Homo sapiens: one gene and its partners. The protein of the gene in region 2 purifies or fractionates together with the protein of the main gene of each other region. This does not show direct contact. Each region holds a gene or a part of one and is shown on either strand. Other genes may lie near its edges.

Region 1 (3,654 bases), on a different chromosome or scaffold from region 2:
GGAAATAGTCCATTTCATCAAGATTTTCACAGATGATGGGATACAATAATGCACAATGTTCTTGAGATTTTACATCTTTTCTCCATGCTGCTCCATATGTCATTTCTAGCTTTGTGAATTTTTTTGCCTTTGTATCTTAATTAGGCTTTCTGGAAGTTTGCCTATTTTATTGGCTTTCTAAAAGAACTAACTGGCTGGATAAAAGGTGGGGAGAGGGCATATAAGGAGGTGGAAAGAGTTGTTTTGGAAGGGTTGGGAGGGTGGGAAAGCATGTTCAGAAAAATGGAGTAGTTCAGCCTACCTAGAGGGTAGAGCGTAAAGGAAAAAGAGGAAAAGCAGTTGAGGCAGGTAAGGAGCTTGGGCTTTATCCGGAGGGTAGAGAAATGATGAGATTAGATTTTTGTTTTAAAAAGATCAACTATGCAACATAGTGAGACCTCGTCTCTACCAGAATTTTAAAAAAAATAAGCCAGGCATGTTGGCATACACTGTACTCCCAGCTACTTGGGAGGTTGAGATGGGAGGATTGCTTGAGCCCAGGAGGTTAAGGCTGCAGTGAGCCATGATTGCACTGCTGCACTCCAGCCTGGGCAACAGAGCGAGACCTTGTCTCAGAAAAACAATAATAATAAACTATGGATGGAGGAAGACTGGGCTGGAAGCAGGGAAGAAGGTGGGGGGACTCTAAAGTAATCCAGAGTTTCAGCCAGGGGCAGTGTGGCCATATGAAACAGGAACCCAAGCAAAGTAGCCCAGGCAGAATGGAAGGCAACATCGACATGGAAACCAAAGTCTAGCCTGGACTCATGGAAACTACTAGAATTGTCATCAATTCAGGGAGCCATGGGGATGGGGTGAAGGATGTCAAATGGTCCTTAGAGCTGCTACTGATAGAAGCCACAGGGATTTACTACTTGGCTTAGAAAGTTTTTTTCAGCCACTTCACAGCTGGAAAAAAGGCACAGAGAAAACCATTCCAGGCATTAAATGGAGCACTGAAATTTGTATTCAGGTACCTAGATCCTAAGCTCCCTGGCCTCCAGATCCTGCCCTGGAAGCTTGCAGGATGAGGCCCTATGTTAGATCAAATACATTACAGGTATTTACTGCTGGGTGGAATAGCGTTTATTTACATACTTTTGTATCTTTATTTTTAGCTGCATCTGGTGAAGTGATCAGAATCAACCTTGTTTGAAGCTGGATATATTAAATCCCCACTTTACTGGGAGCTCCCTCAGCACATGTCTGAGGAACTGAGGGTGCTGTGGTTTGGATATTTGATCCCTCCAAAGCCCATGTTGAAGGAGGGGGTACCTGGTGGGAGGTGTTTGGGTCATGGTGGTGGATCCCTCATGAATGGCTTGGAGCCATTCTTGCAGTAGTGAGTGAGTTCTCACTCTTTTCATTCCCATGACAGCTGGTTGTTAAGAAGAGCCTGGCATCTCCTCCCCTCTCTCTTGCTTCCTCTCTTGCCATGTGATCTCTGCACACGCCAGCTCCCCTTTGCTTTCTGTCAGGAGTGGAAGTGGCCTGAGGCTTCCACAAGCTGCCCAGTCTTCCAGCCAGTAGAATCATGAGAAAAGTAAACCTTTTCTCTATAAATTACCCAGCCTTGGATATTCCTTCATAGCAACACAGGCAGACTAAGATGGGGATCTGCCACTCAAGGTGGCAGTGCTGATAGATTTCCCACGGCCCTTAGATTTATATCCCTCATCCCCACCCCACTGACCATACCACAGCCCATCTAGCCCTGTTTCATTGAGCCTGGGGATACTAGCACTCAGCTGAGAGGACACCACTGCTTCTTCCCAGGAAAGCCCCTTGTTGATACTCATGGGCTGGGTGATATTGGCTGGCACCATCTGTACTCTAACTTTTACAGAGTCCTTAAAGAATCTAGGCCCAGTGTTTGTTCTCTTCTCTAAAACTCAAATCGATGTTTTCCTTACTATATTTGTCTTTGGACACTTTGAAGAAAAGAAAGGCAAATATTTAGGTCCATGGTGCCATCTTGAAACCTACACGTGCGTGTTTATAACCCTGAACCTGCAACTCAGATCTCGGGTCCCAGCCATGACACATGCATACGTCTGCCTCTCTGCTGGCCATCCCCACCTCAAACTCGTCTTGTCTAAAACTGACCACTGTCTTACACAAACCACTTCCTTCTTGGCTGTGCTGGATTCCCCAATTTAGAGCACCAAGCAAAGTAGGGCTCCAAATATTCTTGGAATAAATTTGATATATATTTTTTGAAGCATCAAAGTAGTCACCATGGAGATGTTATAACAATGAATAAGATACAAATGGTACAGTTCTAATTTTTTAAAGTTTCAGAGAAACAAGTCTGATGTACTTTGTTTGAGGATGCAAATTTAGATTATAAAATTATAAAAGCAAGCAAGAAAATGGTTACCATAAAAGGAAGGTGAGTTGTTACCTCCAGGGGGAAGCAGGGTGTGGTTCAAGGGTGCACTGGGCTCTGGGAGCTGGCTGTGTCCTGCTTCTTGACCTGCATGGTGGTCACACGGGCATTCACTTTATAATATTTCACTAAACTGCACATTTGTTTCATGTCCTTTCCTATATCTGTGTTATGTTTTATATATTTTAAGGTTTTTTTAAATAAAGTAGTCATTACAAGGGAAAGAAACAAAACTTTTGTGGACTTTCATAGTTATTTTGATAAAGTTGGCCACAACTTATCTTCCATCATACAAAATGCCAGAAGACAAAAGAATAATATTTGGAGTTTTTAGGTAAAAAGATTAAGATGAAGAAGTGTATGCCCCAAAAGGATGATGTTACTGTGAAACAGCAACATAAAGAAGTTCTTAGGCAAGCAAGAACTACCGGAATATACTATCTTTCCTGAAAAAGATTCCAACTAATCAAGGAATAAGTAAAAATGAAGATTGAGCATAGGAAATGGACTGAGTATTGTAACCTATGTAACTCTCAGTCTAGATAGCAGCTGTTAGTATGGTTAGGAAACATAAATGTCAAAAATAATTCTGGAAAGCAAAAGCATGCATTACTTTTTTTTTTTTTTAAAGACAATAATCTGGATCTAAAAGCCAAAATGTTTTTAAGGCAAAAAGTTAGTGGGGGTAGATGGGCAACAAAAAAGAAATTAAAGCTGGGCACAGTGGCTTACACCTGTAATCCCAGCACTTTGGGAGGCCGAGGTGGGTGGATCACCTGAGATCAGGAGTTTGAGACCTGCCTGGCCAACATGGTGAAACCTGGTCTCTACTAAAAATACAAAATTAGCCGGGCGTGGTGGCAGGTGCCTGTAATCCCAGCTACTCAGGAGGCTGAGGCACAAGAATCACTTGAACCCAGGAGACAGAGGTTGCAGTGAGATGAGATTGTACCACTGCACTCCAGCCTGGGTGACAGAAAAAAAAAAAAAAAAAAGGAAGGAAGGAAGGAATTAAAGTATACTAAATCTCTCATTATTTATGAAAGAACAAATAGACACAACTTTTTTTTTTTTTGAGACAGAGTATCGTTCTGTTGCTCAGGCTGGAGTGCAGTGGTGCAATCTCGGCTCACTGCAAGCTCTGCCTCCCGGGTTCATGCCATTCTCCTGCCTCAGCCTCCCGAGTAGCTGGGACTACAGGTGCCCGCCACCACGCCTGGCTAATT
Region 2 (3,654 bases):
GAACCAAATGCCCATTAGGTTATATTGCCTTCCCTGGGTGATAGTATAGTAGCTACAATTTAATAAGCATTTACAACTTCATGATGTAGGTACCATTATTACCCCATGTTGTAGATGAGAAAGCTGGCTGGAGGAGTAAGTAACTTGCAGCAGCTTAATGTTATCATAAAGTATAGCTGAAGCTACCAGTACCCAAGCTAAAGACTGCAATGGAGGAGGCATGGATGGGTAGAGAGCATGATAGGCGGCAGAGCTCTGAAAAAGTAGTTTCTTATGGTCTAAACATCCTCTTCCTAAGCAGCTTTGATTCTTCTCTCCCCATTTGATTATAAATAACTCCAGATATTAAGCAAGGAACTTCCCGGCTACATTTTCCTTACTCTCAGAGCACCTCACCTTAAATTGCCTCAGTGATTAGGATGGGTGCACAGCTTTCCCTCTTCAAAGGTTTGTTTCTAGTTTTTCTCACCTTTCCCATTTTTCACCTGTGTTGTCATCTTTCATGACCTTTTATTGAAGATGGGAGCTGTCTTAGTTCATTTTGTGTTGCTATCACAAAATACCATGGACTAGGTAATTTATAATGGACAGAAATTTATTTGGCTCACAGTTATAGAGGCTGAGAAGTTCGAGATCAAGCAGCCACATCTGGTGGGTGCCTTCTTGCTGCATGATCCCATGGCGGAAGGCAGAACAAGAGAGTGTGCATGAGAGAACAAGAGAGCTTGGCTTGCAGCCTCACATCCTTCAATAATCAACATTAATCCATTCATGAAGGTGGAGCCATCATGAGCTAAACACCTCTTATTAGGCCCCACCTCCCAAAACTGTTGCACTAGAGATTAAGTTTTCACACATGAACTTTGGGGGACGTGTTCAAACCATAGCAGAAGCCTACCACAATTAACTGATAAAAGTGTATACTAATTTAGTCTAGCATAAAGAGACAGGCCAGGCGCAGTGGCTCATGCCTGTAATCCCAGCACTTTGGGAGGCCGAGGTGGGTGGATCACCTGAGGTCTGGAGTTTGAGACTAGCCTGGCCAACATGGGGAAACCGTCTTTCCAAAAAATACAGAAATTAGTTGGGCATGATGGGGCATGCCTGTAATCCCAGCTACTCAGGAAGCTGAGACAGGAGACTAGCTTGAACCCAAGAGGCAGAGGTTGCAGTGAGCCAAGATGGTGCCACTGCACTCCAGCCTGGGCAACAGAGCAAGATTCCATCTCAAAAAAAAAAAAAAAGACAGTGGGATACTATTTGTTAAATAATATGATATTGCTCTTTTTGTAGACTCCAAAACGTCAGTTATCAGCAATTTGAGATTTAATCTATTACTTCAGATGATTACAGATTCTCAAAGTGCTTAGTCGCACATTTGTTTTTTGGTTTTTAAAATTCAATGAACATTTAGAGAGTATCACATGCTATTGAACTATACTGAGTTCTAGAGATGTGAAGATAATTAATGTGGTCTTGCTATCAAGGAGGTTATGGTTAGAGGAGGGTAGACATTTAAACAAATATAGTGTTAGAGTTGCTAAAATGGAAGCAAAGAGATGGCTGTCACGCATGCAGAGTCAGGGAGAGCCTAGCAAAGGCTGCATAAGGTGAAAAGGGTCAGTGACTTGAACAAGTGTTTTTTCATACTGTAGGAAGTAGCCCATTAGTAGTTCATCAGACCAGTTTAGGGTGTCATATCTTGTGACAGTTACTATGGGACTGAACGAAGGTGGACGAACGCAGAAATGAAGACAAAGACAAAAGGATCTTTTTAAAGAAGGGGTCGGGAGCTCCTGCTAGTGAGCAAGGGCCCTGAGCTTTTACAGCCTTTTATATTTATTGGGTAGAAAGAGCAGGGAGGAGGAGGTAAAGGTCAGCTGCTTGATTTATCACAGGTTCACGTGATTGCTAACAGGCTTCAAATGTGCCTATAGATAATCGCAAGAAACACTGTGCCTGGGCATGACTGCCCTCAGCATTCCTTCTGGGTGGCAGATGCAGTTTGTCAGTTTGCCAACAACCTGCATTCATGATAACAGTTTGCTGTTTGCTCATATAGCCTCCAGTGGTATACTGAGTTAGTCACAACCCTCATTCTTTTGGCCTCCAACAATAGCATTTATTTTTAGTGGAATAGTGTATCTCTCACACAGCAAGTATATTTAGTGAAACTTTGGTTTTATGTCTGTACTAGTCATGTGAAATGTATTTCTTAGCATAGATTTGTCAAGTCAGTTTGAAAACTACTTTTCAGACAAATGGTAAGAAGATAGCTTGACTTAGCTTAATGCAGTGGAGCTAATGCTCCACCTTTTTTTTTTTTTTTTTCTACTTTGTCAGGTTTTTTTTTTTCCTGTTGTTTGAACTTCTTACTTTTGGTACTAGGGTTTTTTTTTTTTTTCTTTCTTATTTACTTCTACTCTTTAGGGATTTCTACTCCTTTGGTCCCTGGAAAACCAAGGTCCTTTCATTACAAGGCAAGGGTTACAAACTCAGTACCTACAGAACCAGCAGGCTGGGTGGAGACTAGGGCCAGCTGAAGAATTGCCCACTTAAAAGGGCATGTGCTATTCCAAGTTCGAACTCATAGATTCTTTGATGGAGTAGAGGTTTAGTGATCTTACAATGTCTCTTAATATTGGAAATACACATTTTTAAGTGAAATCTCTAGATTTTAAAATATTGGTAGCTAATCCAAAGTTTTTAAATACCATATGGGCCAACCAAAACATATCTGCTAGCTAGATTTGGCCTGAGGGGCTCCAGTTTGCAACCTCTATAAGTGAATCTCAACATTCTTTCATAATAGGTAAAGGTTGTCTCAACTACAGCTATCCAGCCTAAATATGTTTTTGTTTTTTTTTTTTCCTTAAGAATTTCACAGTAGTGAGATGCTGCTTTTGGTATGAGGAAAAGCAAATTTAGAAGCTTCATTGCCCAGGTGCTGGGTCATAATATGATGGTGACTCTGATTTCCTGTGGATCTGTGAAGTTCAGTATTATACTTATTTTCTCCAGTACCCCAGGAATTTCTTCATAGCTGTATGGGGTAAATATTGTCCTAAGATTTGATAAAGCAAAAAAATCTTTTTTTAAAGGGCAAAGTCAATTTCCAAAGTGTGCATCTATGTGCATCTGATATTGTGGAAGAAAGTCCCTAGGACTTGGAGTCAGAGGACCAGGATTTGAGTGTTAACACTGCCATTTACTAGTTACTTTACCTTGAGTAAATTACTGACCCTCTCTGAGTAGGCCTCAGGTTTCTCTTTGTTCCTGTCCTTATTACTTCATCAAGTTAATGTCAGATAGAAAGCACTAAAAATTGCAAGGTACTCTGATAAATGGCTGCTTTCTTTCCCTTGTAATTCCTCCAAAATTGTAAATTTATATATATCAACTTTCTGTGTCAAGATCTTTAGGTGAAGAACAGTTTTCTGTGGGATCTGTCAACTTCATGAAACAGACCAATATCCAGAAAAATACTAATACCAGAGATACAAGTAAAAAAACAAAAGACCAGCTCATCATCGTGAGTAAATTCCAAACAAAGCTTCTCCTATCTAGCCCTTTGCAGAAAAGCTTGCCAACCCCTGTATTAGACAGTTCAGAACTTGGTATTTTCAATGTCATTAAGCAATGTTTTATGTGACA
Region 3 (3,654 bases), on a different chromosome or scaffold from region 2:
AAGTTTTTGACTCCTGACTTCCCAAGACGGAATAGAGTTGGAGGAAAGGGTGGCCCGGGAAAGAAGGAAGTTCAGGGTTATAATTTATCATAACTCCAGGCATAATCCAGCACAGGCTTTGGGGAGAGGTGGTCTTTAGAAAGCAGGGTCTTCTCTGGAGTGGCCCCAGAGGCTCAGCACTTCCTCCCGTCGGTGGGCTCTGGTAGATGTAACATGTCAGCTCCATAAGCCCCTCCTTGCTTCCCCTAGGGATTCCTGGATGTGCTCTAATTCTTACTGTCCGTGTCCAGGGACCTCACAGCCCTGAGTCCCCAGGAGGGCCTGGGAGATAGGTGCCTGGCTGCTTAAATTCCGCACAAGACCTGAAAAGATGGGTTTGGCAGGCATAGAGGACTCTCCAGTCCTGCTTAAAATACATGCATAAGTCAGTCCATCTCACACTTAGACTTCAGATGGAGCTGCATCCCCCACCCAGGGGGATTTCCTCTAAGGCCCTCACTTAGAGGGAAGTCTGGAAGCCACAGAGGGAAAAACTTATTATAAAGTACCATGTTCAGGATGATTCTTACATTTAGGTACTTTTTTACAATGTGCAGGTGGTATGTTTCTCTACTTGTTCCTACTTTGATTTTCCTTACTTGGCTATTTTATCTTCATGAGTGTTGAGTTTTGTTTGTTTGTTTGTTTTTGAGACGGAGTTTCGCTGTCGTTGCCCAGCAGGAGTGCAATGGTACAATCTCGGTTCACTGCAACCTCCTCCTCCTGGGTTCAAGTGATTCTTTTGCCTCAGCCTCCAGAGTAGCTGGAATTACAGGCACCCGCCACCACGCCCGGCTAATATTCTGTATTTTTAGTAGAGTCGGGGTTTCATCATGTTGCCCAGGCTCAAACTCCTGACCTCAGGTGATCCACCCACCTTAGCCTCCCAAAATGTAGGGATTACAGGCGTAAGCCACCACGCTTGGCCTCTTCCTGAGTGTTTTAGGCATCCGTCCCCTAAAGTCACTTGCTTTTCTTATACTCCTAGTCCTAAGTTCCAATTTTTAGGGCAGTTTGTGACTTCTCTTGGCAGCTAATAGTAGGAAAGTCCCTAAATGGCTTTATCCTGCACACCTAGTCATTCTCTGGCTGTTTTGAGGAAAGTGTGTGTGTGTGTGTGTGTGTCTGTGTGCATGTGCATGTGTGTGTGTGTGTGAGCGCGTGCATGTATGCGTGTGCACGTGCATGCGTGTGTGGGCGCGCGTGTGCATGTGCATGAGTGTGTGTGTGTGTGTGCGCGTGTGCACAGGGGGTGTCCCTGCCCTTGTGGTGTTTGTACTTCATGCAGCATTCTCTGGTGGAAGCATGGTAGGGAGAGATTAAGACCAGCCAGCACACACCATATTCACAGAGCACGTCCACCCTGTGATGGGCTTTTCAGGTGGTTTCTTGACAACCAGACTTAGTAATCATCCTCCAATCCCACTTACCATTAACTGAGAAAAGCACATAATTGGCTTAGGAGAGTCACTAATGCACCTTTATGAGCCTGTGTAGGCTCTTAAGTCTTTAGAACCGACTGCTTAAAGAGCCTAAGCTTCTCTACCAAAATCATTGAAAAGTGCCTTTCAGAAAAATCAGGATGTTTAAGAGCAGAACAACTGTAAGGATGTTAGCCACCTGCCCTGTTTTACAGAGAAGGCCACTGAGGTCCAAATAAATAACATATGAAGCTCACATAACTACAGTCATGCATCACTTAACGAAAGGGGTACGTTCTGAGAAATGCATCGTTAGGTGATTTTGTCATTGTGCAAACAGCATAGAGTGGACTTCACAAACCTAGATGGTACAGCCTCCTGTACACCTAGGCTATAATCCTATGATCTGTTGCTTCTGGGCTACAAACCTGCTCAACATCTTACCATACTGAATACTGCAGGCAATGGTGATGGTAAGTTTTTGTGTCTCTAAACTTAGAAAAGGACAGTAAAATACAGTATAAAATGTAAACAGCAGTACACATGTATAGGGCACTTGCCGTGAATAGAGCTTGCAGGACTAGAAGTACTCTGGGTGAGTGAGTGAGTGGTGAGTGAATGTGAAGGCCCGGGACATTATTGTACACTACTGTAGACTTTATACCGTACATGTTAGCTACACTACATTTAAAAGAGAATATTTTCCTTAATAATAAATTAACCTTACCCAATAATAAATTTTCCAATAAATTATCCAATAATAAATTAACCTTAGCTTACTGTAATTTTTTTTACTTTATAAACTTTTTAACCTTTTTAAACTTTTTGACTCTTTTGTAATAACACTTAGCTTAAAACACAAATACATTGCACAGCTACTACACATATTTTCCTTCTTTATAGCCTTACTCTATAAGCATTTTTCTTTTTTTATTTTATTATTATTATACTTTAAGTTTATAAGCATTTTTCTATTAAAATTTTTTTTAACTTTTTAAACTTCTGTTAAAAAAAATAAGACACATACACATTAGCCTAGGCCTACACAGAGTCAGGGTCATCAATAACACTGTCTTCCACCTTCACATCTTGTCCACTGGAAAGTCTTTAGGGACAATAACACGCACGGAGCTGTCATCTCCTGTAATAATAATGCCTCCTTCTGGAATACCTCCTGAAGGATCCATTTAAGGCTGGTTTACAGTTTACTTTGTTTTTAATAAGTAGAAGGAGTACCAGTAACATCGTCATTTGTTATCAAGTATTATATACTATACATAATTATATGTGCTAGACTTTTATATGACTGGCAGCACAGTAGGTTTGTTTACATCAGCATCACCACAAACACATGAGTAAGGCATTGTGCTACACCGTTAGGATGTCACTAGGTTGGCCAGGTGTGGTGGCTCACACCTGTAATCCCACCACTTTGGGAGGCTGAGGAAGATGGATCACTTGAGGTCAGGAGTTTGAGACCACCCTGGCCAACATGGTGAAACCTCGTCTCTACTAAAAATACAAAAATTAGCCAGGCATGGTGGTGCACACCGATAGTCCCAGCTACTTGGGAGGCTGAGGCAGGAGAATCGTTTGAACCCCAGAGGCAGAAGTTGCAATGAGCCGAGATTGCACCACTGCACTCCAGCCTAGGGGACAGAGCAAGACTCCTTCCCAAACAACAACAACAACAACAAAAAGATGTCACTAGGGCATAGGAATTTTTCAGCTCCATTATGATCATACAGGACCACCGTCATATGCGGTCATTGTGGGGTGCATGACTGTAGTTATGTAGAAGCGGCGCTATGCCCAGGACTTTCTGTTCCGCAGTCCTGGGCTCCTTCCACTATAGCAAGAGCCACCTCCATTTAGAGCACCACAACCCAGCTAGCAAACACGTGCTATGTGAGGACAGGGACCACTTAGCAATGCTGTCTGTTTCCCCTCTTTCCTGCGACAGGGCTGACTAACAGCAGGCCCTCCATACATTTACCTAACACATAGTTGCTTGCTTCCTCAAAGAGAAAACCCCTACAAGTGGATTTATGAGAGTGAGCAGCCACAGACAGCAGCAGCACGGCAAAGGTGGGAGATCTTGTTTCTTCCAGATGAAGAAACAACGTGATAAAACAACATGGCAACATTGCCTGATCTCTGGGCCTTGCAGTCAAAGAGATAATAGTCTAAGGCA

The links.
Region 1: the proteins of ESCO2 (region 2) and ADD2 purify together in Homo sapiens (affinity purification with mass spectrometry; one large-scale study listed by BioGRID and IntAct). This does not show direct contact.
Region 3: the proteins of ESCO2 (region 2) and MACROH2A2 purify together in Homo sapiens (affinity purification with mass spectrometry, with the first as the bait; one large-scale study listed by BioGRID). This does not show direct contact.

Annotation. Positions count from the first base shown.
Region 1 is NC_000002.12:70,758,187-70,761,840, forward strand, and holds part of ADD2 (beta-adducin), read right to left. Parts: intron 1-3,654. UniProt on the Homo sapiens protein: Membrane-cytoskeleton-associated protein that promotes the assembly of the spectrin-actin network. Binds to the erythrocyte membrane receptor SLC2A1/GLUT1 and may therefore provide a link between the spectrin cytoskeleton to the plasma membrane.
Region 2 is NC_000008.11:27,784,471-27,788,124, forward strand, and holds part of ESCO2 (N-acetyltransferase ESCO2), read left to right. Parts: intron 1-3,414; coding exon 3,415-3,532; intron 3,533-3,654. UniProt on the Homo sapiens protein: Acetyltransferase required for the establishment of sister chromatid cohesion. Couples the processes of cohesion and DNA replication to ensure that only sister chromatids become paired together.
Region 3 is NC_000010.11:70,069,821-70,073,474, forward strand, and holds part of MACROH2A2 (core histone macro-H2A.2), read left to right. Parts: intron 1-3,654. UniProt on the Homo sapiens protein: Variant histone H2A which replaces conventional H2A in a subset of nucleosomes where it represses transcription. Nucleosomes wrap and compact DNA into chromatin, limiting DNA accessibility to the cellular machineries which require DNA as a template.